Regions from separate parts of the Homo sapiens genome. Here regions 1 and 2 are each linked to region 3. A link means that fine-mapping ties the variant in region 3 to the expression of a gene that starts in the linked region. Tissue or cell type: unexposed skin. Region 3 holds a variant in brackets; each other region holds the start of a gene. All regions are shown on one strand. Distances are between the middles of the regions.

Region 1 (8,103 bases), 50 kb before region 3:
GAAGAAACCATCTCCTCTCTTCCTGAGTTTGCTCCAGCCAGCACTGCAGCTGCCCCAAAACTATGACATGTGCCACCATGCCCAGATCATAGGGCCTTTGGGGGCTCTTTTAAAAGTCATAAAGACTAAGCTCTTCTTAAAGTACACAAGCATCTGTGAAAACTGAAAAGGAAGGTACCAAGGTCTGTTTCGGAAGCTGGACTCCCCTCCCCTTTGGACTTCAGGAATGAGTAGACAAACGCATCTACATAAAAGGAAGAGGGTCAAAAGGCCTTCTAGGAGCTCCACTGCTTCACACAGCAAAGATCACGCATGGGATTAAGGATCTGAAGACATCAAAAAGCAGCAGAGGGTAAGAAGTGCTGTTAAAGGGAGGACAGAGGACAGGTCGGGCGCGGTGGCTCACGCCTGTAATCCCTGCACTTTGGGAGGCTGAGGCAGGCGGATCACCTGAGATCAGGAGTTCAAGACCAGCCTGACCAACATGGCGAAACCCCATCTCTACTAAAAATACAAAATTTAGCCGGGTGTGGTGGCGGACACCTGTAATTCCAGCTACTCGGGAGGCTGAGGTAGGAGAATTTCTTGAACCAAGGAGGCAGAGGTTGCAGTAAGCCAAGAACGCGCCACTGCACCCCAGCCTGGGCAACAAGAGTGAAACTCTGTCTCAAAAAATAAAAATGCAACTAAAAAAAAAAATGGAAGACAGTGCTGTTTAGACAGAGGTAGATCAGGTGGAGACACTCACTGGGAGTTGGTGCCCGAAGCCCCCACAGGGTGGTACATCAGCAGCCGCACCTCTCACCGCTCCTGATGCCACCGGCCACCTGCCAGCCCCGTGTCACTCTCTAAGGTACAGGGTAGGCTGCAGAACTCCCCATGTGGGTCACACTCTACTGGGGACCGAGCCCCGTCTGTGCTCCCATTGTGCCCTATGCCATCAGTGCCCACACACAGGGTGCTGGTACCAGTGAACATTGGTGGAATGGATAAGCAGCAAGGGCGGGCTCAGGAAGCCCCCACCTTCCCAACCCAACATCACCACCTCACTTTCACACTTTGCTTCTTTTTGCTAAATGTCACTGGAAGGTCCTTCTGTCCATGGTTTCCTCTTCTTCCCACTCTGAGACCAGAGCCATGCTGCAGGCTATCAGGTGCTATGCACCTGCCAATTGCGCTCTTTAATGAAACTCTGAAATGGACATGGCCGCTGGACACAACAGGAGGTTGACCACAGAGACCTGCACGCAGGGGGGGATGCCAGACCTACATGTGAGACAGCTTCAAACAGCAGAGCTTCAGCCCAAGTCCTAACTCCTCCCCATCGGAGCTCATCACCAAAACACCCAGGAGCCCCCTGAGAAGGTTGTCTGGGGGGTCCCTGGTGAAGATGGGATGGATTCCAGGCCCCTTCCTGCTCAGACCCACCCCACCACCATCAGGATAGTACTGGATCTCAGCTTAACACGAAACAGGTCAGTGGGGACCTGGGAAAACGTGTCCTTGGGGGTGTAACACAGACCCAGTGTCCCTTCAGAAGAAAAACCGAGGCCTCCAGACCCCTCCCCTGGCCTCCCACCCCTGGCTGGGTGCTCAGAGTCCTCCTCAGGCAGGAAGACCTGGGGTCCTTCAAAGTCAAAGTAGTCCTGGGTCAACCACCCACCAGGCAGGTGGATGTCTGGGAAGAGCAGCAGCTGGGGAAAGTTTTAATAAGCTCCGTGCCCAGGAAGAATGGCGCCTGGGTAGGATTCCTCCTTACCCAATTAAACACATTGGACCAGTCCAGCTAAAGGCGCTCCCCTCGAACTCAGCCGCAGGCCGAGCACTAAGGCCAGTAAGGTCTGCAAATCCTCCTGATCCAGTCACATCCTTCATCCTGAGCTGGCCGGAGTCACTTTCCCTAGGTTTGAATTCCGGCTTCACTTTGAGGCCCGGTTTTTCTGGAGACCAATTCTCTGTGCCAAGGAGAGGGTTTCCCATGATGCCCCTGCCAGCTGTGCTTGCTTGGAAACTGGCAACCACAGGACATTCCTGATGTCATGTCCTGGGGTCAAAAACCCAAGGCAATCAAGAACTCAGCTCCTGAGAGCCTTCCAGAGGGACCCCAAAGGAAAGTAAGCATGGCCCTTGCCTGCAGCACAGGTTTGATAAATATAAGACGTCTGCAAAGAAAGCAGGCCCAGGCAGCTCCTGGGGCTAAGGTGCAGGACAGGAGACACCTCCAGTCTCCGGCTCCCAAAGCACGTCTACCTCACATCGCTCAAAGCCCAGCTTGGGGTGCCAGACCAACAGGGCTATATTGAGATAAGAAACACCTGCCCAAGAGGTTCATGGATAAGAAACACTTGCCCAAGAGATTCATGGAAGAAGCCTAGGAGGCCAACATAGGCTCTTTCAAAAAGAGTCATCTCAGTGGCTAGTGTCCTGAACTTATTCAATCCCCGTACTAAAGAGGGCCGTTTCAGGGTCCAAATGGAAAATTAACACCACCATCCAGCCACATCCTAGCTTGCCTGTCTGGAAACTCAGGAGTCAAGGAAAAATAAAAAGATATGGCATTGGTCCTGAATGGAATTCAGTTTACAGAAGCCCACAGTCCACACGGAAGCCACAGTGCACACGGAAGCCCACAGTCCACATGGAAGCCCACAGTCCAGACCACGCAGAAACCCACAGTCCACACAGAAACCCACAGTCCAGTCCACACGGAAGCCCACAGTCCAGACCACACAGAAACCCACAGTCCACACAGAAACCCACAGTCCACACGGAAGCCCACAGTCCACACGGAAGCCCACAGTCCACACGGAAGCCCATAGTCCAGTCCACACAGAAGCCCACAGTCCACACGGAAGCTCACAGTCCAGACCACACAGAAACCCAGAGTCCACACGGAAGCCCACAGTCCACACAGAAGCCCAGAGTCCACACAGAAGCCCACAGTCCAGTCCACACGGAAGCCCACAGTCCACACGTAAGCCCACAGTCCACACAGAAGCCCACAGTCCAGTCCACACGGAAGCCCACAGTCCACACGGAAGCCCACAGTCCACACGGAAGCCCAGAGTCCACACGGAAGCCCACAGTCCAGTCCACATGGAAGCCCAGAGTCCACACGGAAGCCCACAGTCCACACGGAAGCCCACAGTCCACATGGAAGCCCACAGTCCAGTCCACACGGAAGCCCAGAGTCCACACGGAAGCCCACAGTACACACGGAAGCCCACAGTCCACACGGAAGTCCACAGTCAAGATCAACCTTCCAAGAACATGTATAGGACACTTACTTCTCTTGGAGGAGCTCGATCCAAAATACGGGGGCAGAGGCACAGCTCTGACTGACAGCTCCCTTGCTGTGGGACCACCACCTGGTCGTTTGGATATTGTTAGTTAGGACCTAAAGTAGTAAGGCCTTCCCAGGGCTGTCGGGAGAGAAGCAGGAGCTCCGTGCATGTTCTCTGCCACAGCGTGCCCTTAGGTTTCACAGGGGTGCCCTCAACTCACAGGAGAGGCAGGGAAACCTCGGGAATAGCAGGAATGCCAATGCCCTCCCCCCACCCTCAGCCTTGGAGAAGGAATGTGAATGTGCCAGGCGTCTTGTCTTCTCCAAGCACATATTGATCATATTGATCTACTCTGTGGGACTCTTAGGGAACCTCATCCAAACGCCAGCCTTTTGCCGGTAATGCTGTGAATGTAAACTGAGGGTCCTTCCTCGGCCCGGCTCACTTTCCTCTTCTGCTGCTCTTCTCGGGAACTGAGGTGGCGTTTTACCACGGACCTGCTCAAAGGCCCGATCCACTGAGAGGACTCTCAAGTCTACTACTCCAGGCTTGGCTTGGAATGAGAAAACCGTTTTGTGACTGGTTCTCCCACACTGTGAACAACAAAATCAACGGCAGCAGCAAGTATTTACATCCCTAGGGTGCCTGCATGGTTTCCCGGCCAGTCTCACTGACATCTCAATAAGCATCAGTACAACAACGTACTGCCAAGTTACCTGTGACACCCTTTCCACCGCAGCCCTGCCAGTCCCAATCAGCAGTGGATTTTCTTTGAACAACTGTAGAAACTGAGGCATGGTGCAATAACCTCAAAGAGTGAATTAGTAAGTTAATAAGCTGTTGTTTCCCAAAAACCTGGAGTTCCTTGCATAAGAAGTTATATCAATGAGTGATGTGTGATTCTTGATTAAGTTTTAAAGAGAAGACACCATCCAATCAATGCGCAGGTAGGTGGTGAGGCCTCAAGCCATAAAGATGACCTATTCTTCAAAAGGAAAACAAGCAGCAAAAAAGTCCAGCCGGTTACCCCACGGAGCCAGGAAGCACCCGGACGCCGCAGGCCTCCCGGGCTGTGCAGACAGCTCTCTGGTGCTATGTCCGTGGGATTCTCACCACAGCCGGCAATACACAGACTCAGCCTGGCTTCCCCAACCCACCCCACCACGGCTGCCGTGCCAACAAGCATCCGCTTTACATATGGGATGGAACACACACCCATGCTTTAAAGGAGAAACCTACTACTGGGAACGCAGGCCCAAGCCTCCTCCAAATGTGTGCATGAGCATGAACGTGAAAACGGATAAATGAAGCATCTTCCTCTGTGATCGTCCCTGCACCCCTCAGAGGACAGACCCCAAACTGTCAACTTTCCAGCCACATACGTGTGCGCACTAAATACAGAAGAGCACCAGGTGGAAAGAGCCTGTGCAGAGACAGCCAAACCGAAACCAACAAAGCCTCTGCAGCAGTCAGAAAATAAACACTCACATTCCAAAGCTCGCTGTCTGCTCCTCTCTCCCATCGCTCTGCTCGACTGTGAGAATCTTTCCCGGCTCGTCCAAGACTCAGTCCGGCTTTTGCGCAAATCAGCTCCGAGCTTCTATGACTCAGCAAAGAGCTCGGCTTTTATTTTTCAGATGGAATTTACCACGCTGTGACTACATCCAGGGGGAGGAACCATTTCCCCGAGCTGTTTCCAAGCAGAGCCCTTGAGCCAGGATCGCCCAAGCTCTCCCTGTGCACCTTAAGGCCAAGCACAGAGGCATCCTCTGAGCCCCCAGCCCAGCTCCCTGCAGGGCGCGAACAGACGCTTCTCGGTGGGGAAGGGGCCCGCAGCTCTGCACGGCCGGGCGGCCGAAGGCACAGCCACGCAGGTGAGATCCTGAAGGCAGCTTGGCTCTATTCAGATGCAGAGGCGGCCTGGGCTCCGGGTTGGCCCGGCGGCAGTCTCACGTGAAAACCAGCGAGCGGCAGAGGCCACGGCTGGGCCATCCCTGCCCTCACCGCCCCCTCGGCTTCCTGGCTGCTCCAGGACCGCGTTCTGGCCGGCTTTCCCTCCTGCTTGGAGAACCCCCTTCAAGATTGCAGAGTGAGCGGGTCAATAATAGGAACGAACTTCCACTCTGAGGGTATCTATTTTAAATGTCAGGTGATAGAAGGGATTTGCACACACTCAACACTGAGGACTGAAAATGCAGACGGGAACCAGACACAGGAGACCAGCAGCATTCCTGTGTGAAGGGCAAGCACGAGAGCTCACCTGGCCCGCCAATCCCACACGCAGTCCATAATCACCGTCCGGAAAAGCCGTGTGACAGCCGCTCTGTAGAAAACGCAGGGTCTGACAGGGTTTCCAAGCAGGAGGCCGCTTAGAGTCCATCTGGGTCCGATTCCATCAAGGCAGCCTTGAGGGCTGCCGGTGCGGGTGGCCTGAAGCTCCTGCCCTGCCCTGTCTCCGGCCACCAGGGCCTGCGCTGAGACTGCATCGGAGCCTGGACCCCAGAGCAGGCCTGCACGCCCAGGTTCTGGGGGTCAGCCTGGGAGGACCCTACATCCCCCCTGCTCCCAGCCCGCTCTGCCTCAGTTCCCTCGCCTGCACCCTGCCTGCCCCCCACAACCTGCCTCTTCTAGTCAAGGCCAAATGTCACTTCACCCCAAAGCTGAGACCGGCAGGCATCACCCCGAGAGGAGCCCACAGAGTGAACGCCGATGATAACATGTCAGAGGATGGCACAGGGCAGGCCAGGACTTCGGGTTACTTCTGCTGTCTGTCTAGATCTGGCCACCCTCATAAGTTAGAGCAAGCAAAAAATTGTCCTGATTAAAACCATGGCCACACGTCTGGCCAAACGTCCAGGGTGATGCAACAACCCTCCAAGGGTCACATGTCCTGACTCGTGTGACGGAGCCGCCCGCTGTCCCTGGTTACCAACCATCGCTGCCTCTATGTCACAGGGGAGGAGGCTGGAGCGCCAAGAGGCCATGCGGCTGCCCCACAATCACATCCCTGTCAGGTCCCGGAGCTGGATTCAGACCCGGAACGGTGGGTCGGAGATCCAGACCCCTCCCGTGTTGCCCTGAAGCAAAGAGGGTTCCCATGCCGGCGGCTCGGGGTCCACGCCCGACCCCGAGGGTGGCTCCTCCTCAGTCGGAGGCAGGCCACGGGGACAACCTTCCTGACGAGGGCAGTGCCCCCTCAGCCCAGCTGTCCTCCTGCTGGAATTGATCCTGGGGAAACAACACAAGGATGGTGTGTGCACAGATTTGACTTTAGTCCAAATACTTTATAGCACCTACCCCGTGCCAGGCGCTGTTGTAAGCCTTTAAATATAACTCACTCAGGGATGCTTACGGCAGTGTTGTCCATAATATAACAGGGAATAATTGGAAACATCCTAGACGTCCAACAGAGGAGTGATTTAACAAGCGATGGGAAACGCACATACGTCCAAATACAATGGGGCCATTTAAAAATGTCCCCAGTCCAAGCTTAACAGAAAGACGTAAACAACCTATTGTTTAAGTTTTTTAAAGTCAGCCATAAAAAAGCTGGTATCGTATGCTCACATTTCTGTTTAAAAAAGTGTGTATAGTATGATCACATTATTTGTTTTTAAAAACGCGTGCCTGTGTGTGTTGCACTCAAGAAAAACAAAGCCTGAAAGCGTAGATACCAAGCTCTAAAGTGGCCATAGCTCCAGGTGATAGGATCTCAGGTGACTTGATATTTTGTTTTGTATCTTTCTGAATTGTATGTATTTTTTTTGTAGAATTGGAAACAATATTTTTAGAATCAGAAAAAACATCTACTTTCATTTCCAAACAGATGCACATGCGTGTATGTGCTTTTGATTCCTGCAGTAAACGTGCCCCTTGCAGACGGTCCGTTCTCTCCCGGAGCCCAGAGGGAGACACTGTCCCTTCCAAATCCCCACGCTGGCTGAGGCGGAGAGCAGGTGGGTGCTGGGCCGGGCTGACACCCGGCGTTCCAGCTTAGGGAGCAGCCTGCTCTTTAAATAGCATCCATTTTTCTAGTTGTAAAAGTGAAATGTGCTCATTGTAGAGAATTTGGAAAACACAGGAATAGATGAATAAGAAAACCATCCTTGCTAGTCCTCAAGAAGCTGAGCTTTGAGCCTCCCAGCCACATTGCCAGCTCCACCCTAATTCTTCCAGATCCCAGAAACCGAGCCCCAGCACCTGGGATGGAGCCAGCACCCCCAGGACGTGTTCTGAGGAAAAGAGGCTTAAACAGCAGGCCTCACTTGTGTCACAGGGTCTGGGAAAACCACGACCTCCAGTGGGTCTCTATGTCTCACGTGGCTGCCTCACCAGGCACCACGAGGCCCAAGTCTGATCCCACAGCCCGTCCCTGGCTTCCCTTTCCCACCCACGGGCAGTTGTCACCTGTCCTTTCTGGGGGAGCTTGGCCACTCCCATGATCACACCCAAATCCAGGGCTCTGCTGCTCCATCGCTGATTCCCAGACCCACCCGTCCTGCTGGCCCGGTGTCTCCATACAATTCCTCGGGGGCCTCTCAGACCCGGCGGGTCCAAAAATAACCTGCCCTGCCCCAAACTTCACTCTTCCTTCTATTATATTGCAGGTCCTGACACAGCCATTCACCAGTTATTATCCAAGCAAAAATATGGCTGCCTTCCTTTTCTCCTCCCTTCCCAGACAGGCCTGCGCCTTCCAGGCCCTGCACACAGCTGTTGGACCCACCACCCCAGCTCCCGTCATGCAAAGGCACCTCCTCCTGGAATCCTGCCAGGACTGCCCCCAGGGGCTCCCATCCTCGGTCCCTCTGTCTCATGA
Region 2 (8,103 bases), 36 kb after region 3:
ACTGACTAACCAAATGAGGCCTTTTAAGAAAAGACAGGGCCTCCTTCTAATGACAAAAGGGCTGTTTGCTTCTACTGTAAAAAGCCTGGCCATTTCAAAAAAGATTGTAGAAAATTTAACAGCAGGACCAGTGAAAAACCAGGATCCCACATGATGAACAGGATTGCTCTGATGATCGAAGGGAGGTGTTCCTATTTCTACTAATGCCTTAGGAGAAATGGACATTGCCATAAATGAAGAACAGACACATGCCCTCAAAGACACTGGTGCCACTCTTTTCGTCCACTTTAAGTTGTCTCCTTCCTTGGAGTAATGGAACTGTACAAACGGTAGGGTTATCTCATCAGCCTATCACTGGATACAAGTCCAAGCCCTTAGAATCCCAGGGCCCTCATTCTTTTCTTCATTCCCCCACCTCTCAGACATCTCTTAGGCAGACATTTTGTGTTGGAACGTCACAATGCATGCTTTCCTTCTCCCAAAAGGAAGAAATGGATTTAGGTTTAGAATGGAAGGAGCAAATGGAAAAACTACAGAATGAGAAATTACTGAAATTATAAAAATACAGATCAAACAACTTTTTTTTCAACTGGCACTAATGACACGGATGGCTTAGGGCAAGCTTTGTCAGACCACTTATGGTCAGAGTCTTCCACCGACATTAGTAAAATATATTCAGCCACTTTCATTAAAGTGGAAGTAAACCTGATTAATCCTTTACCCAATATCAGACAATATCCTCTAAGGCCTGAAGCAAATGAAGGAATAAGATCCGTAACAAAAGACTATATTAAAAGGGGTCTAATTATTCCTTGCGCCAGCATGTAATACTCCAATCCTTCTTGTAAGGAAGCCGAATGGGAAGAGCTGGTATTCTGTACAAGATTTGAGAACCGTCATCAACACTGTGATCCCCAGACATCTGGTAGTACCAAAGCCCCATCCTCTTTCGGCAGCTGGAAGTGAGACACTGTGACTCATTTATGTAGTGCCTTCTTTAGTATTCCAGTGGACCTAGAGTCAGTATTTGTTTGCTTTTACTTGGGATGACTGCGAGCATATCTGGCCTATCAGGAAATATTGCTGATGAAACTGCTGCCTCCATCACAGCCCAACAAAAAGCTACTGACTCACTGGCTAAGGCTGCACTGGACGACTGCATTGCTTTCGATTATTAGCTGAGCAAGCAAGTCTATGTATGGTGGCAAATACCTCTTGATGTGCATAAACCCTTTCCACGAAGTAGAAACTCATATGGGAAAAAGTACAAGCCACTAGGCTACACTATTCTGAACAATTCTCCATTTGATTTTCTTCGTAATACTTTTAGTTGACTCCCTCGAATAGGTTCCGTTTTTCATTCTGGCATACACATTCTCTTTTTCATTGTAATCCTTATGTGCACCGTACTTGGTAACATTTTTGTTTTAATAGAGATGGAGTCTTTCTGTGTTGCCAGGTTGGTCTTGAACTATCAGGCTCAAGTGACCCTCCTGCCTTGGGCTCCCCAAATGCTGGGATTACACACAAGAACCACTGCCTGGCCAGCACTACAGTTCTACTATCGAAATTATTAATGCTATGCTATGTATCTCTGGCGGTTTTTTTTTTTTTTTTTTTGAGACAGGGTCTCACACTGTTGCCCAGGCTGGAGGGTAGTGGCCTGATCATGGCTCACTGTAGCCCCTACCTCCTGGGCTCAAGGAATCCTCCCACAGCAGGTGCCACCATACCCAGCTAAGTTTTTTGTATTTTTTTAGGGGAGAGAAAGCGTTTCGCCATATTGCCCAGACTGGTCTCCAACTCCTGGGCTCCAGCGATCCTCCTGCCTCGGCCTCCCAAAGTGCTGAGATGAAAGACATGCGCCCCACACTGGCCTCTGGATGTTTGTTACTCCTGAGAAAACTAAAATCATGGCACTCCAAAGACTAGAGACGATTCAACAGGCAAGAGCAGGGATGAAATGCACGCAGCGACTGAGGTCTGGCTTCGCGGCTCTGTGACCCCGGTTCAGCTTCTGAGCGCCTGGTTCCTTGGCGGGACGCCTCCTCCTTTCCCGCAAGACCAGACACGACTGTCTGGGAAGCAGCGTTTCTGGGGCGCACCTTGACACTTGGATTTGGATCAACAATGCTTTCAAGAAGAAAGACTTTTGATCAAAAGCGGGAAATGAGAAAGCGACTTTCCTCTGAAAAGTGCCTCCCAGTCCCGAGGCTGCGAGGCCCCCACGCCAGGCTGGCTCCCACGGAAGCCGGGCACCCACCCGGCCCGACCAAGCGCCACTCCGCCCCGTGGACGGGGCGTCCCACCCCGGGGACGCCCGCCCCACACCGCGTTTGCACCCCGGAGGCCCCTTGCCGCAGAGGCGGACGGCGCGCCTCTCCCGGGCCCCTGGGGTCCGCGCCTCCCTCGGGCAGACTCTTTCGACTCTGCTCGAGCCTCCGCTTCTTCCTGCGGGCGGACGCCCCGGACACAACGGGCCCCGCTGTTCACGCAGGGGCGCCCCGGCGGGGCGGGCAAAGACCCGGGGACGCGGTCCCGTCCCGAGACGCTCAGCTCCGGCCCACCGCTCGCAGCTCCCGCCCCGGGCGCAGGTCCCGACCCCACGGGCCGTCTCGGAGCCGCAGCGGCCGCTTCCCTGCACGTCCTCACGCCCCCCGCACGGACGCCGCCAGCCCCGCGCCTCAGTTTCCCCACTAGCAGGATGGAAAGACGGGCCCCGCCCCGAAGCGTAGCGGCGTCTCCGTGGTAGCCAGTGCCCAGAGAGTCCGCCGGTCCCACCGCCCCTTCAAAGGAGAACCCGGCCCACCGCCCGCCGCGGCGGCGACCGCGCAGCCCACTCGTCACGCGGCCCGCGGCGTCCAGCCCGGGCCGGCTCACCTCAGGCGGTCGCTGCCGCCCTCGCGCCTGCGCGCCCCTCGCCCCGCCCCTCTCCCCGCCCGCGTCCCGCGCACCGCAGGCCTCTGCCCCTCGCCCACCGCAGGACCCGCCCCGCGCACGCGCCGCACGTGCCACACGCACCCCACGCCCCTGCGCACGCGCAGGCCCCAAGTCGCGGCCAATGGGCGACGCGGCCGCAGATCCGCCCGGCCCCGCCCTGCCCTGTGAGTTCCTCCGGCCGGGCTGCGGGGCTCCGCTCAGTCCGGGAGCGCAGCTGGGCCGCGGCGCTCCGACCTCCGCTTTCCCACCGCCCGCAGCTGAAGCACATCCCGCAGCCCGGCGCGGACTCCGATCGCCGCAGTTGCCCTCTGGCGCCATGTCGCAGAACGGAGCGCCCGGGATGCAGGAGGAGAGCCTGCAGGGTGAGGCGGAGGAGGCGGCGCGGGAGCCGAGGGGGCGCGGGGGGGAAGCCTGGGGAAGGCCAAGAGGGCGCCAAGGGGAGGTTGCCGGGGAGGCCTAGGGGGCATCGCGGGCCGGGCGAGGCTGCGCCATCCTCCCCTTCCGTACCCACCCCTCCTGCGGGCATGCGGAGCCCGGGGCGTGGGGACCCCGCGTACTGCCCGGGGTTCGCGGCCTCGCCACTCGGGCGGGGGTTGGCTTGGACCCGGGTCGGACCGCACGGGAAAGCCCCGATTCTCCAGCTCCGCGCGAGCTAGAATTCCACCTGGAGGTGAATCTGCGTCTCGCAGTTGGACCGAACAGCCTCAAAGTCCACGTTGCCCTCCGCGGTCTGTAGTTCAGACCAGTATTGGTTTTAATGACCAAACACCAAGGCGTGGCAAGTGGCCTGTTATGAGCTTTAATTTTGTTATTAATGTTTATATCCATGGTGACTGTTAGGATTTCCTCAAGGGTGAACGCGGAGATGGGAGGGGGTTACAGCGTTTTTAAAATATGGCATTAAATGGGCATGTTCCAATTTCACTAGAGGGTCGTTCCAAAACAAAGCTTTAAATGACTTACGGGTTAAGAAAACACAAGCAAAAGGACGCTGCCCGTGCAGCACTCAGTCGTTACAGCCTGCCTAATGCCCGAGTAGAGGCTCGCTGTGTGCCCTTGGCTAGATTCGCAAGACCATCCGTTCACGCAGCGGGAAACGCAGGCCCGGGGTGCAGGACTTGCCCCACGCACAGCCGGGTGGCGTGGAGACCCACCCCACCCGGTGGGTCCGCGTCAGAGTCCAGACGAGCCTTTGCTCAGGGAAGCGGGCACTGAAGCCGCCTTCCCAGGGTCCCTAGGGCCAAAGCCTCGGAGGAGGGACCTGGTGGCAGCTGACCTTTGTGTTCTTTGAAGCCAGAGTTTACTAAGCAAAATTAGCATGTAAATAAGCTTGGGAAAGGACTGCTGAAACCTCTGACAGTGAACTTTTAATCTTCATTGAGAGTTTTTAAAACCATATATTCACATAAATTTAGTGAGTTGCTAATTTTATTACAAAAAAAAAGATTTTACTAGGCAGGACTTAGTTACCGTAATATATTGAATAATATATATATATACATATGAACACTACAAGCTTTTTTTTTTTACCTTTTTTTTTTTTTAAGAGACGGGGTCTCACTGTGTTGCCCAGGCTGGTCTGAACTGGGCTCAAGCGATCCTCCCGCCTCGGCCTCCCAAAGTGCTGGGATTATAGGCCTGAGCCACCAGGCGCGCCTGGCCTAAAACCATATTCTTTAAAATCCTGTAATTCGGATTTTTCCTCTTGAAATTTAAACATTGGCTAATTACTATTTTGAAATAGATTAAGAGGTGTTTTCCTATCTTTTGTCATAAAATAAAGTCCAAGGGATGTTTTTATAAACTCTTTGCCATAAAATCACCCATTTTCCGGTTGTGAAGCCGCGTTACTCCTGACATTGTGCGTTTCACTGTCCGGCTGGGATCTGGGCGCTGGGAGGTGGAGGGGGCTCCGGGGGGCTCGGTCCTCTCTCCAATATGTAACTTACACAGGCTGCTGAGTCATTGGCAGTGCAAGGCGGCCAGCGCCGGAGTTACGAGATTTTTGTTTTTCTGTTTTGTTTATTCTATAAAAAGATAGTTACCCGCGGGGTGGATCCCATGTAGGCGATTCCTTGGGCCGCCCTGAGTGTCCGCGCGGCAGGACGGGGCCACTGTGGGCTCGGCGTGGGCGGGGTTGGCCGGTCCCGCGGGCTCCAGCTGCCTGCAAATCCGGGACGGAGCGGTGGCTCAGGCAGCGCTCACCTCTGCCTGTCCGATTTCACTGCCCCTTGTTGACCTCGGAACAGAGAACAATGGGAGCCTTGCAGCCAGACCCACGGATGGAAGCAGCAAGCACTCTCTCCTCTGAGTGTACCCTCTGGGGCCAACTGCTTTTCCTAAAGAGTTAATGGCAAAATGGGCTGATTCTGTTCCTTTCTATCTCTTGATCATTCTAGCTAAAGTTGTTGACTCGCAGGATGCTCGTATTTGTCCTTTTCCTTTTTTTTACAAGCCCAGTCTTACTCCCCCAGGCTGGAGTGCAGTAGCACAATCATTATAGCTCACTGTAGCCATGAACTTGGCCCTTTTCTCCTAGACATGTCACTGCTAACATGCAGGAGAGGTAGGATTCTGTGACGAGACCGTGTCACGGTGGCGGGGGCATCACTTCCTTGAAGGACCCACTGTCTTCACCAGGAGGGCATCAGTTCAGTAAAGTGCATGCCCATTTACTCTGGAGGGCCGTGTTTAATAATCCAAGCCCTCACCTCTTCACCCACTGCTGTGTCTGCAACTGGCAGATGGTTCTCTCTCTTGTCAGAGGCAACTCACCATGGGCAAAGTTGTATGAGGGGAAAAGATGTTTTCTACTTATTTTGGAGTGGAGTTGTAGCATTGTGTGCTTTGAGACCTGAAGGGGTTGCAGACATCGAGATTCTCGTCCAAGACTTGCATTTCATAGATGGTCACAATGAGGTTCTAGAGGTGGAGTGAAAGATAAGGCTGGCAACAACACTTAAGGAGAAGCCAAGGTCTCTGCATGAGGCAGCAGTGGGATACCTGGAGCCCAGATGCCTGAGGCTGCGTGCAATAGGCCCTGGAGGGTCCTGGAGGAGAGGAGGCCAGAGGTCCTGGAGGCAACAGGAAGGTGGAGGGAAACGAGCCCCGTTGGAAGCCAGGGACCTGATTTACCTACCCAGCTGACTTGATACTTGAAATCTTTTGTCAGGCGGGTCTCTTTTGTTCTCTCCCCACTAACCTGAGAAGCTTTAAAGGTAAAACAGCAATTTCTTAGAGCCCACCTCCCCTGGGGAAGAAGCCCTTTGTATGGTTTTGGGGTGCTAGTTCCCTCGGGGGTTCACAGCTCCTCTGCTTCAGGTTTTTTTTCTGGGATGCTGCCTCCCTCTGTTCTGACATTTATCCCAGAGCTTTTTCAATCTATTTGCCTGGATTCCACCCCAGCATCCCAAATAGTCACTTTCAGAGTGGGCTGAGGCTAGGCTTTTGGAGAACAATGAAAAAACACCACAGGTGATTCTCCCTTCATAGCCAGAGTTGAGGTTGTCACCCCAGGTTAGGGCATAGGGTGGCCTTGAGAACTTGGCCCTGTGTTTACTCCACGTGGGGCTCGTGGCTGTGGCCCATGAATCCATGTTGAGGAATGGGACCCAGGGAGTTGCCCTGGGACATACAGAGGGCAGTGAATCGAAGGGATTCCCTGGAGTCTGTCACTGGAGGGAGAACTGCTTTGGGCACCTAGAAAAGCTGGATGTCAGATGATTTTTTTTTTTTTTTTTTACACAAAGTGAGAATAAGAAATGGATTAAGAACTCTTGTTGGACTGTATTTTGTCTCTGAGGCAGACCTATCAGTTTTCTTTTTGTACTGTGATATAAATATTTATAGTCTAGGCTTTTCAAAATCTCATCTACCTTGATATAGGAGGGAGGTAAGATTTACTGGCTGTGTGTCTTGTTAGCAATGTAAATTATAAGTGAGTGAGGAGGGGGAGGAACATGAGAGGGACGCGAAATGAGATTAGGAAGGAGGGCTTTTCTTGCAGCAGCAACAGCAGCACCTTTCCGTCTGGGGCCTAATTATACTACAGTGATTTGAAGTGTAAACTGCTTGTGATTATGAGCAAGTTTTCTAAGGTTATTAAGCAACCTTACTGTAAGCCCATCTTTCTTTGAAAAGGTGAACGATCCGAGTGGAGAACTGTAACACGTGAGTAGATACACAGCACGCTCCATTCTCCAGGAAGTGCCTTCCTTTCCTACGCGGTTGCTGTGGGTTAATAATAAAACTCCTGTCCCTTAGTAAATCATTCCTGGGAATACAGCTTTTGGGCCCAAAGTCATTAGCCATGGACAATCTGGAGTGAGTTTTTTTTCCTTGTTTCCTGGATTTTTAGGTCCTTTCTGGGGTGATGTTTAAAAAGCACTGCTTTGGTTCGAATGTGTTCCTCCATGTTGCCAGTGGGATGGTAGTAAAAGGTGGGCCTTTAAGAGGTGGCTCGGCCATAGGGGCTCCTCTCTAGTGAATGGGATTAGTGCTCTAAGGGGCTGGATGGAGGGAGGTGGGTCCCTCTGTAGCCTCATTGAAGGGATGAGGCAGGAAGGCCCTCAGCCGACACCAGATGTTGGTGCGTGGATCTTGGACTTCCCAGCCTCCAGAACAGAGATCAGTTTCTGTTCGTAAATCACTAAGTCTGTGGGATTCTGTTGCAGTAGCGCAGAGGATGACAGAGATACACTTGTCTCTCCTTCATCTTCCTCTCCCTGTTGTCTTCAGCCTGCCCCTTGTGTGATAGATTACAGTATGTGTTTGGTCTTGACCCTACCTACTTCCTGGTGCAGAGCACCTAAACCCCTGGGGCTTCCTGAGCAGTGTCTTTTTTTTTTGTTTGAGACACAGAGTTTCGCTATTGTTGCCCAGGCTGGGGGGCAGTGGCATGATCTCGGCTCACTGCAACCTCCCCCTCTCAGGTTCAAGGGATTCTTCTGCCTCAGCTTCCCGAGTAGCTGGGATTACAGGCGCCCACCACGCCCAGCTAATTTTGTATTTTTAGTAGAGACGGGGTTTCACCATGTTGGTCAGGCTGGTCTCTGACTCCTGACCTCAGATGATCTGCCCGCCTCGGCCTCCCAAAGTGCTGGGATTACAGGCATGAACCGCTGTGCCAATAAGTGTCTTAAGCATGTTTATTAAAGAAAGTAA
Region 3 (8,103 bases):
GAACGCGCACACCCGGCAGATCAGTGGTAACAAGGGAGCAGGTGCTCAGTGAGTCTCTAGGCAATGACCGCTGCAGCATCTGGAGGAGAGTGTGAGCCCGAGGTCTGGGCCAGGCTTGGGAGGACTCAGGAGGCAGAGAGAAGAGCCAGGGCACTGGGGCCAGGCTTGGAGACGAGAAGAGCAGGAAGAGCTCGGCAGAAGAGGGCTGCCTAAGAGAAGAGCTCGGCAGAAGAGGGCTGCCTAAGAGACACAGGTGGAGGTTGAGCTCCTGGGTTTTTACCCAGAGGAACTGGAAACGTGTCCACACAAAACCTGCGCGTGGATGTTTACAGCAACTTTGTTCATACTCACCAAAACTTGGAAGCTGCTGGGATGTCCTTCAGCAGGTGAGTGGAACCATCAGTTGTGATTCATCCCATCAAGTGTGGTTCAGGGTTAGAAAGAAATGAGCTATCAAGCCAGGAAAAGACATGAAGGACCCTTAAATGTACATTACTCTGTGAAAGAAGTCAATCTAAAAGGCTACACACTGTATGATCCCAACTCTTTGACATTCCAGAAGAGGCAAAACTATGGAGACAGTAAAAAGATGAGTGGTTGCCAGGGGACAGGGGAGGGAGGGAGGGAGGAACAGGCAGAGGATAGAGGACTTGGGGCAGTGAAAGTGCTCTGCGTGTTACTGTCGTGGGGGATACATGTCATTACACATCCGTCGAAACCCATAGAATGTCCAACACCAAGAGTGGACCCTAACGTGGACTCTGGATGATAGCGATGATGGCAGAGGCGGCCCATCTGGAGCGGTGGCTGCCATCATGCTGGGTACAGTGGGGAGGTGTGGCTGGGGCTGCATATGGGCTGCACACTCCACAGAGCCGGCGGGAGCCAGGGACAAGTGGGATCCCTGCCCCTTCTGAGTTGATCCCTGCCCCTTCTGAGCAGGAGCTCTGTAGGTGCAGCCACAGCCAGCCAAGTTGTGGCTGCAGACCGGAGCCTGCCACTACAAGGAGCAGACAAGAGCCCTGCCCACCCCCATCAGGCACAGCTGCAGCTGCCCAAGTCATGGCTGCAGACCTGGGCCTCCCTGTGTTCTTAGGGGGACTGGAGCAGGCAGGAGCCCCGCCCTCCCAGGCTCAGCTGCAGCCACCCAAGTCACAGTTGTAGACCTGGGCCTCCTACTCCATGGAGAAGGCAGGAGCCCTGCGGCCCCCACCCTCCAGGCGCAGTTGCAGCCGCCCAAACTGTGGCTGTGGACCCAGGCATCCCTGCACTCTTGGGGGCCCAGGAAGGCATCCCCCTGCCCTCACAGGCTCAGAAGTGCCTGCTCCCACTGCCTGGCTTCTCCCTGCTTTCAGTGTTCACTCCAATCTCAGAGCAAAATTGGGGCCAAGCCCGGGTGCTGTCACAGCCCGGTTGGGTGTGCATGCACGTGGAGCACTGCTGACATGCCAACCCCCTGCTGCCTGGCCCCCTCCAGACTTTGGGCATTGACGAGCTTGGGAGGGAAGCCGATGGGGTCTGAGGGCAGGTCTGTGCTGGCCTGCAGGCAGCCCTTGGCACCTACAGCCTGGACACTATGAACAGCAGCAGGAGGCAGACAGGCTCCCGGATGGAAGGGGGTGGGTCCCTGGTGAGAGCCCACCTTTAGGCCAGGGAGGGCCTGAAGGCTAGGGGCAGGGCTGCCAATCCTGCAGACCAGAGAGGGGACTTGTGGTGCCTTTTCCAGGCCTGCCCATGGCCGCCCATGGACCAATTGGTACGCACTTCCTCCCCTCTGAGGCCCATAAAAGCCTGGGCTTAGCCAGAGCTGAGCAGACGTTGGGATGAGCAGTTACAGAGAGGAGCTACTCACTCCAGGGCCTCCTGTGAGCTATTCTGTCACTAAATGAAGCTCCTCTTCACCTTGCTCACCCTCCATTTGTTCACATACCTCATTCTTCCTGGACACAGGACAAGAACTCAAGACCTGCTGAATGGCAGAGCTGAAAGAGTAGTAACACAAACAGGGCTGAAACACACCCCTTGCTCTCCATGTTGCAGGTGAAGAGAAGGAGAAAAGAGCTGTGGCCCTTCAGGGAGCCCAGTCCTCGAAGCTCCCTGAGCCAGGGCTGTAACTCCCTCTTTGGGGCCCTGTGGTTCCTGGAGTCTCCAAGCTTCCAGCACCACTGCATTTCCCAGTGGCAGCCTTGGAAGCTGCTTGCAGTGCACCTGGTCCAGCCACAGCCTCACAGAGAGCCAGCGCCCAGGCCAGAGCCAGGCTGAAGAGAGAGGATTGGTTGAGGCCAGGAGTTCAAGATCACTCCGGGCGACATGATGAGACCCCATGCCTACGCACACACAAAAATAATAAATTAAAGTTTATTAAAAAAAAAAAAGAAAAAAAGCAGGTGAGGCCTAGTCACAAATACAGATGAGAGCCCAAGTCCACGTCTCATGCTGAAGATCTGACTTTACCTGCCTTTGGTGTCTCTTTAGATAGTTCCTCTCCAGCAATTTAAGCTGCAAGTGTTTAGCACCTCTAAGAGTCCCACAATGAACAGCATCCCTTTTCCTTGCTTGAGTATTGAACAGAGAGAGAAATAAAACAAAAGCAGATGGAGCCCAAAATATTCCCCTTGTTACTGGCAATGGCTAATTTGAGCAGTGGCTGAAAGTCAGAGTTGAACAGTTAACCAAACCCCAGAGAGGAAGACACCTTCCCAGATCGCTGTGGGTCCCCAGCCCTGGGCACCCCTCAGCCCCTCAGGCTCCTCATGCCCCTGAACCCAGCCCAGGCTTCTGAGGTCCCAGGATGGCTCCATGTACAGCACACTCCCAGGGAAGGAGGCTCAGACGTGGGGACCCCCCACCCAGGGAAGGAGCCCCAGAAGTGGGGACCCTCTCCTAAGGAAGGATGCTCAGAAGCGAGGACCCCCTCCCAGGGAAGGAACCCCAGAAGTGGGGGCCGTCTCCCAGGGAAGGATGCTCAGAAGTGAGGACCCCCTCCCAGGGAAGGAACCCCAGAAGTGGGGACTCTCTCCCAGGGAAGGATGCTCAGAAGCGAGGACCCCCTCCCAGGGAAGGAGCCCCAGAAGTGGGGACCGTCTCCCAGGGAAGGATGCTCAGAAGCGAGGACCCCCTCCCAGGGAAGGAGCCCCAGAAGGATCGCTGGTCATATGGTATTTCTGTTTTAATGTATTTGGGAGCCTCCATGCTGCTTTGCGTAATGGTGGGAATATAGAATGCCATAGCTATTTTGAAAAAGCATTTTTCATTTTGAGGTATAATCTAAAAACAAATAATGTTTGATCATGGTTCATATGAGGCTGTAAATCTGGTATAAGTCTGGAGAGTTTTCCCACCTTGGGCAAGGATGAGTTTGCCCCTAATTATCTTTGAGGCAGAAGATTGGCAGAACGTGAGATGGAGACTGTTGGCAGGATTCAGTATGATTCAGTAATAAATAGCATTGACAGAGAAAAATAGAGACATGGAGAGAAAGGGAGAGAGAGAATATGAATCTCATAAGAGGAAAATCTGCTGGATATCAGTGTTGGGTTTTCAGTCACAGAGACATCTGTATGAGCGAGGAACCATGAAGTCAAGTGAGGAGTGGAGAATATGTCCAGTCCAAAAATCAGCATGTTCTCAGAGGCACCCAGTGCCCCATCACACGGGTGAGAAATGTTTGAAACCAGTGATGTGTGAGTGCACAGTAAGTGATAAAGGTATCATGTCTCCATGAACTTTCATTAATAAGACAAGGACTTCTGTAGATCACTCATGCACAAATATACAAAATGTGTTTTTGCATTTGTGAATGTTTAGAGAAAAAGAATCTGTTGAGAAAACTTCTTCGGTTACAGAGAGTCTAGCACCTTCTAAGCATCTGAATAGGAAATATTTGTCATCTATTGTCTCTGAGGGCAGCCACTATGAGGCTTCAAAAGAAACTTGGGCTCCACAGTCTTTTATCTTAACCTGAATATTTCCTTTCTATAGATCCCAGGACTTTAGACAAACTCAACCAATTGTCAACCAGAAAATGTTTAAATTTACCTGTAGCCTGGAAGCCCCGCCCCCCACTTTGAGTTGCCTGCCTTTCTGGACCCAACCAATGTATTTCTTAAATGTATTTGATTGATGTCTCATGACCCCCTGCCCCGTAGAAGATATAAAACCAGGCTGCACCCCGACCACGTGGGGCGCAGGTTCTCAGGACCTCCTGAGGGCTGTGTCACGGGCCATGGTCACTAATGTTTTGGTCAGAATAAATCTCTTCAAATATTTTTCAGAGTTTGACTCTTTTCATTGACAAAAGTAAAGTGAAGGAACAGCTACTCCATAGACAGAGTAGGGTGTTCCCAAAAGTAAGAGGAGGAATGTGTCCACCCACAGTACAATACTTGTTTATACACACGATAAAAAAAGATCATGGGGAGATGTGCTCTGCTATGAGGGTTTGTGATGAAGAGTTACTGTTCTTAATTACTATATTTTGCAAGAATCGATATTATCTTTAAAGCAAAATAGGACTGCTTCTGTTCTCAAGATATCGGGATATCAGGACACTCCTATGTCTGGATCTGTTTAGTAAATGTTGTCAATCTGTTCCCTTGAC[T/C]ATAAACATCCAGAGGCTGGGAATACCTAACTTTCCGGCCCTGCAGCCCAGCAAGCCCCAGCCTCCTTTCCCAGCCCTCACTGTAAAAAGTAAAGTAGAGGTTCCTCTTCAAAGACTTTCCTCCCCATCTAATTAGGAATAAATAGCAACTTCTCTTAGAGGCAAAAATTTGTTCAAAGACCTGTGCTAACATTCTTAAATATCTGCTAGCTGTAATAAAGAAATCAATGTACTTTAAGTTCTTAGCTCCCCCAATTTAGCCTAAATATTTGCCCTGGCATGCTTATACTAGCCTGAGCAAGCATTAGGTCAGAGCCTGTTCCTCTTCCTTATTTGAAGGTGTTTTTACCTTCCTCAGCATTCCACAAGTTACTTCCTCCTTTCCTTGTTCTCCTATGACTTTGCCTCTTTTAAAAAGTTCTAAGTTGCAGCCGGGCGCAGTGGCTCAGGCCTGTAATCCCAGCACTTTGGGAGGCTGAGGCGGGTGGATCACGAGATCAGGAGTTCGGGACCAGCCTGGCCAATGTGGTGAAACCCTGTCTCTACTAAAAATGTAAAAATTGGCCGGGCATGGTGGCGGGCACCTGTAATCCCAGCTACTTGGGAAGCTGAGGCAAGAAAATCATTTGAACCCAGGAGGAGGAGGTTGCAGTGAGCCGAGATCGTGCCATTGCACTCCAGCCTGGGTGACAGAGCTGTTATAAGTTGCTAGCCAACTGGGACAAAACCAGAATGTGAGGTCCCGTTCCAGCCAATGGAAACCGGACACAGACGTAGGGTGGACACGTCAGGTTATAAATGACCCTGCCTCCTTTGTTCGGTGTACTCTCATGGCAAAACTGCTGGGAAGTGTACCCTTTCTGCAGAAAGTAAAAAAAATGCCCTTGCTGAGGAAATTAAATTTATGTTCAAGTGCTATTTCTTTATGGCACCGGGGAATAAGCATTACGAACACTCACTCACGAGAGAGATGCTGTGATTTGAATGCCCCTGACATGGGTGTTCATGGTGGAGGGTGTCCAGGTTCTCGGTGTCTGGAACAAAGAATTGGACAAAACCTACAAACAAAGCAAGGAAGAGATGAAGGGATCTATTGAAAATGAAAGTGCACTCCACAGTGTGCGAGCGGGCCTAAGCATAGGGGCTCAAGGGCCCCGTTAAAGAGTTTTTGTGAGTTTAAATACCCTCTACTTGGGGTACGTCCTATGTAAATGAAGAGGATGAAGTAAATTTACAAAGTCATTTACTCGGTGTATGCCCTATGGAGAGGATATTTCCTGTTATAGCTGAAGTGTGAATCGGCCTCATGCTTCCTGCCTGCAGACCCTATTTTCCTGTCTCATATCCCCCCAGTATGTGATCCCCATAAATCTTTATGGGAGGCAGAGGGACCAATGGTCTTTTTTCTGTACTGCTTCATGCTGACTTGGAGCGTAGTCCCTTCCTATTGGGAATCATGGAACTCTCGCCCTGCTCTGTCTAGTGGAGGAAGGGTAGCTGTTTGATAGCCAGGGGTGGTGTCTTCACCTGGAACTGGCTGGAACATTTGTTGCGTGATCATCTGAGGCTTGATGGTCTTTAGGCGAGAGGAAATAAATTTGGTTAAAAGATTTCATAGGAACTTCGGAGGTGGATACCCATGCAGTCAGAAATGTTCGTTATAGAGATTTGCAGGAGAAAAAAACAAAACCTGGTCTGTTCTAGAATCTATGTGTTTCCTTAAAGTCTTAGCACAAGTGACTCCATTTGGGTTTGGTTTGGTTTGTTGGGGCCTAGTGCATGAGCTTAGTCCAAAACAATGGCCTCCCAGAATTTTGTTTAAAGAATGCCTCCTTTTTGGTCAGGTTCTCACTTCGGCGAGAGAGTGACCAAAGCTTAGGGGCTTTACACCACTCTCAGTTACCATCATTTTGGGTTTCCAGTCTCAGCACATCATTTATAGGTTACGGGGCCCTCGTGGTTGCACATTTATTTTAGCTCCTGCTATTTCAGCTGAAGAGAGACCATGTGACATTCTAGAGATAGCTACACAGCATTTACAACCTGAGAGAACACAGCGCGCCAGGGAGACTATTATTATGACTACTGGGAGGATAATACCAAGAGTTTGGAGTACGCCCCTTAGCCAGGGTTCTCATAAACTGAACCTCTTAAAATCAGATAGATCAAAGAAAGAGCTACATAAAAAGCTCACTCACTTGACTAAGCAATTTCTTCATCCATCTCCTACCACTGAATTTCTATAATCTTCATTTGCTGTATTTCTCCATAGGCCACAAGTGCCAGCAGCTGCACAGATATTTCTCTGGTCAGCCAGTTCTATTATAACTTTCACAAGAGAATTTAAAGTCTGTTGCGTAACTGTAGCCTTTACAGGAGAATCTTCTATAAAGCCTATCATGAGGGAAACATTTCTTTCTTTCCTTTTTTTTTTTTTTTTTGAGATGGAGTCTCGCTCTGTTGTCCAGGCTGGAGTGCAGCGGCGCGATCTCAGCTCACTGCAACCTCCACCTCTAGGGTCCAAGTGATTCTCGTGCCTCAGCCTCCCGAGTAGCTGGGACTACAGGCACACGCCACCACGCCTGGCTAATTTCTTGTATTTTTAGTAGAGACGGGGTTTCACCAGGCTGGTCTCCAACTCCTGACCTCATGATCTGCCCGCCTCAGCCTCCCAAGAGGGATACATTTCTAATCATTGCTTCTTTTATTTTAAATCATGGAAAAAGGACCCAACAGATGATGCCTTTTTAGAATAGTGAAGACCTCCTGGCTATGTTCTCTTTAACCCATGATGTGGGTTCAGAGGAGTGAACCAATGTTTTGTTTTTGATTGATTACGAGGCAACGTGCGTACCAGTAAAATTTCTTACCTACATTGGGCCTTCATCTTTTATCTATCAAAGTATAAGGTTATCCATGTATAAGACTGGCTGCAAACTCCTTCACAAATAAAAGTATAACCCATAAGTGCACATAATAGACCCTTTTCTACTTCTAGTGTTCGTAGAGGTATAAGCAAGAAAAAGTATTCAAAGAGAAGTTTCATGACAGAAGTCTTAATCTGTGAACTCGGGAAAAGCTGTTCACAACAAGGATGCCATCCTCGTCTTGGGAGAAATTTCCCTGATTATTTTTACCTTAAGGGTTCCAACGGGTGCACAGCTCCAAGAGTGTGGAGGGACCCTTCTCAGTTGTGACATTATAAACCCAAAGTTCAAGGTCCTGAAGTTTTGTTGTAGTGTGGATGGCAAGGACAGTCTTTCTCTGATGTTCCCAGAAGATCTGAACCATAAAAAGCCTTTTTTCAACCTGGTGAAAATATACTGTGACAAAATAATCTACTGTTATAACATCAGTCCTCTTGCATGGGAAAGATTTTATACAACCAGAACACATACATCAAAAATAACAACTGAATGAAATCCCTTTATAAAATGTTTAATGGCTCACCAGGTGACCAAATGTATCTGAAGCTTTAATTGTTTTCCCAGGAATACGGGATC

Which allele goes with the higher level. Positions count from the first base shown, and alleles are read on the strand shown. Sizes are in standard deviations (SD) of each study's normalised expression. Not every link is listed here.
As copies of C replace T in region 3, the expression in unexposed skin of the gene that starts at base 3,140 in region 2 goes down (small effect, 0.30 SD a copy in GTEx).

Evidence for each region. PIP is the estimated chance that this variant, and not a neighbour inherited with it, causes the effect.
Region 1: it holds the start of JAKMIP3, and the variant in region 3 is fine-mapped to the expression of JAKMIP3 in unexposed skin (GTEx, PIP above 0.99). The same link has a PIP of 0.9 or more in sun-exposed skin.
Region 2: BNIP3 starts here. The variant in region 3 is fine-mapped to the expression of BNIP3 in unexposed skin (GTEx, PIP above 0.99). The same link has a PIP of 0.9 or more in sun-exposed skin.

The regions. Positions count from the first base shown.
Region 1 is chr10:132,062,731-132,070,833 of GRCh38, reverse strand. JAKMIP3 (Janus kinase and microtubule interacting protein 3) reads right to left here and starts at 4,888. Exons shown (of 24, transcript NM_001323087.2): 1 at 4,773-4,888. RefSeq lists enhancers at 2,589-3,089, 5,364-6,111.
Region 2 is chr10:131,976,960-131,985,062 of GRCh38, reverse strand. It overlaps BNIP3 (BCL2 interacting protein 3), which reads left to right and starts at 3,140. Exons shown (of 6, transcript NM_004052.4): 1 at 3,140-3,302. The coding sequence starts at 3,257. RefSeq lists silencers at 2,470-2,589, 2,630-2,819, 2,870-3,169, 3,400-3,629 and an enhancer at 3,037-3,961.
Region 3 is chr10:132,012,713-132,020,815 of GRCh38, reverse strand. No RefSeq gene overlaps it. Among named protein-coding and RNA genes, the nearest start is that of BNIP3, 35 kb to the right of the region's middle. RefSeq lists an enhancer at 691-1,362. The variant T/C (reference allele first, on the strand shown) is at 4,601.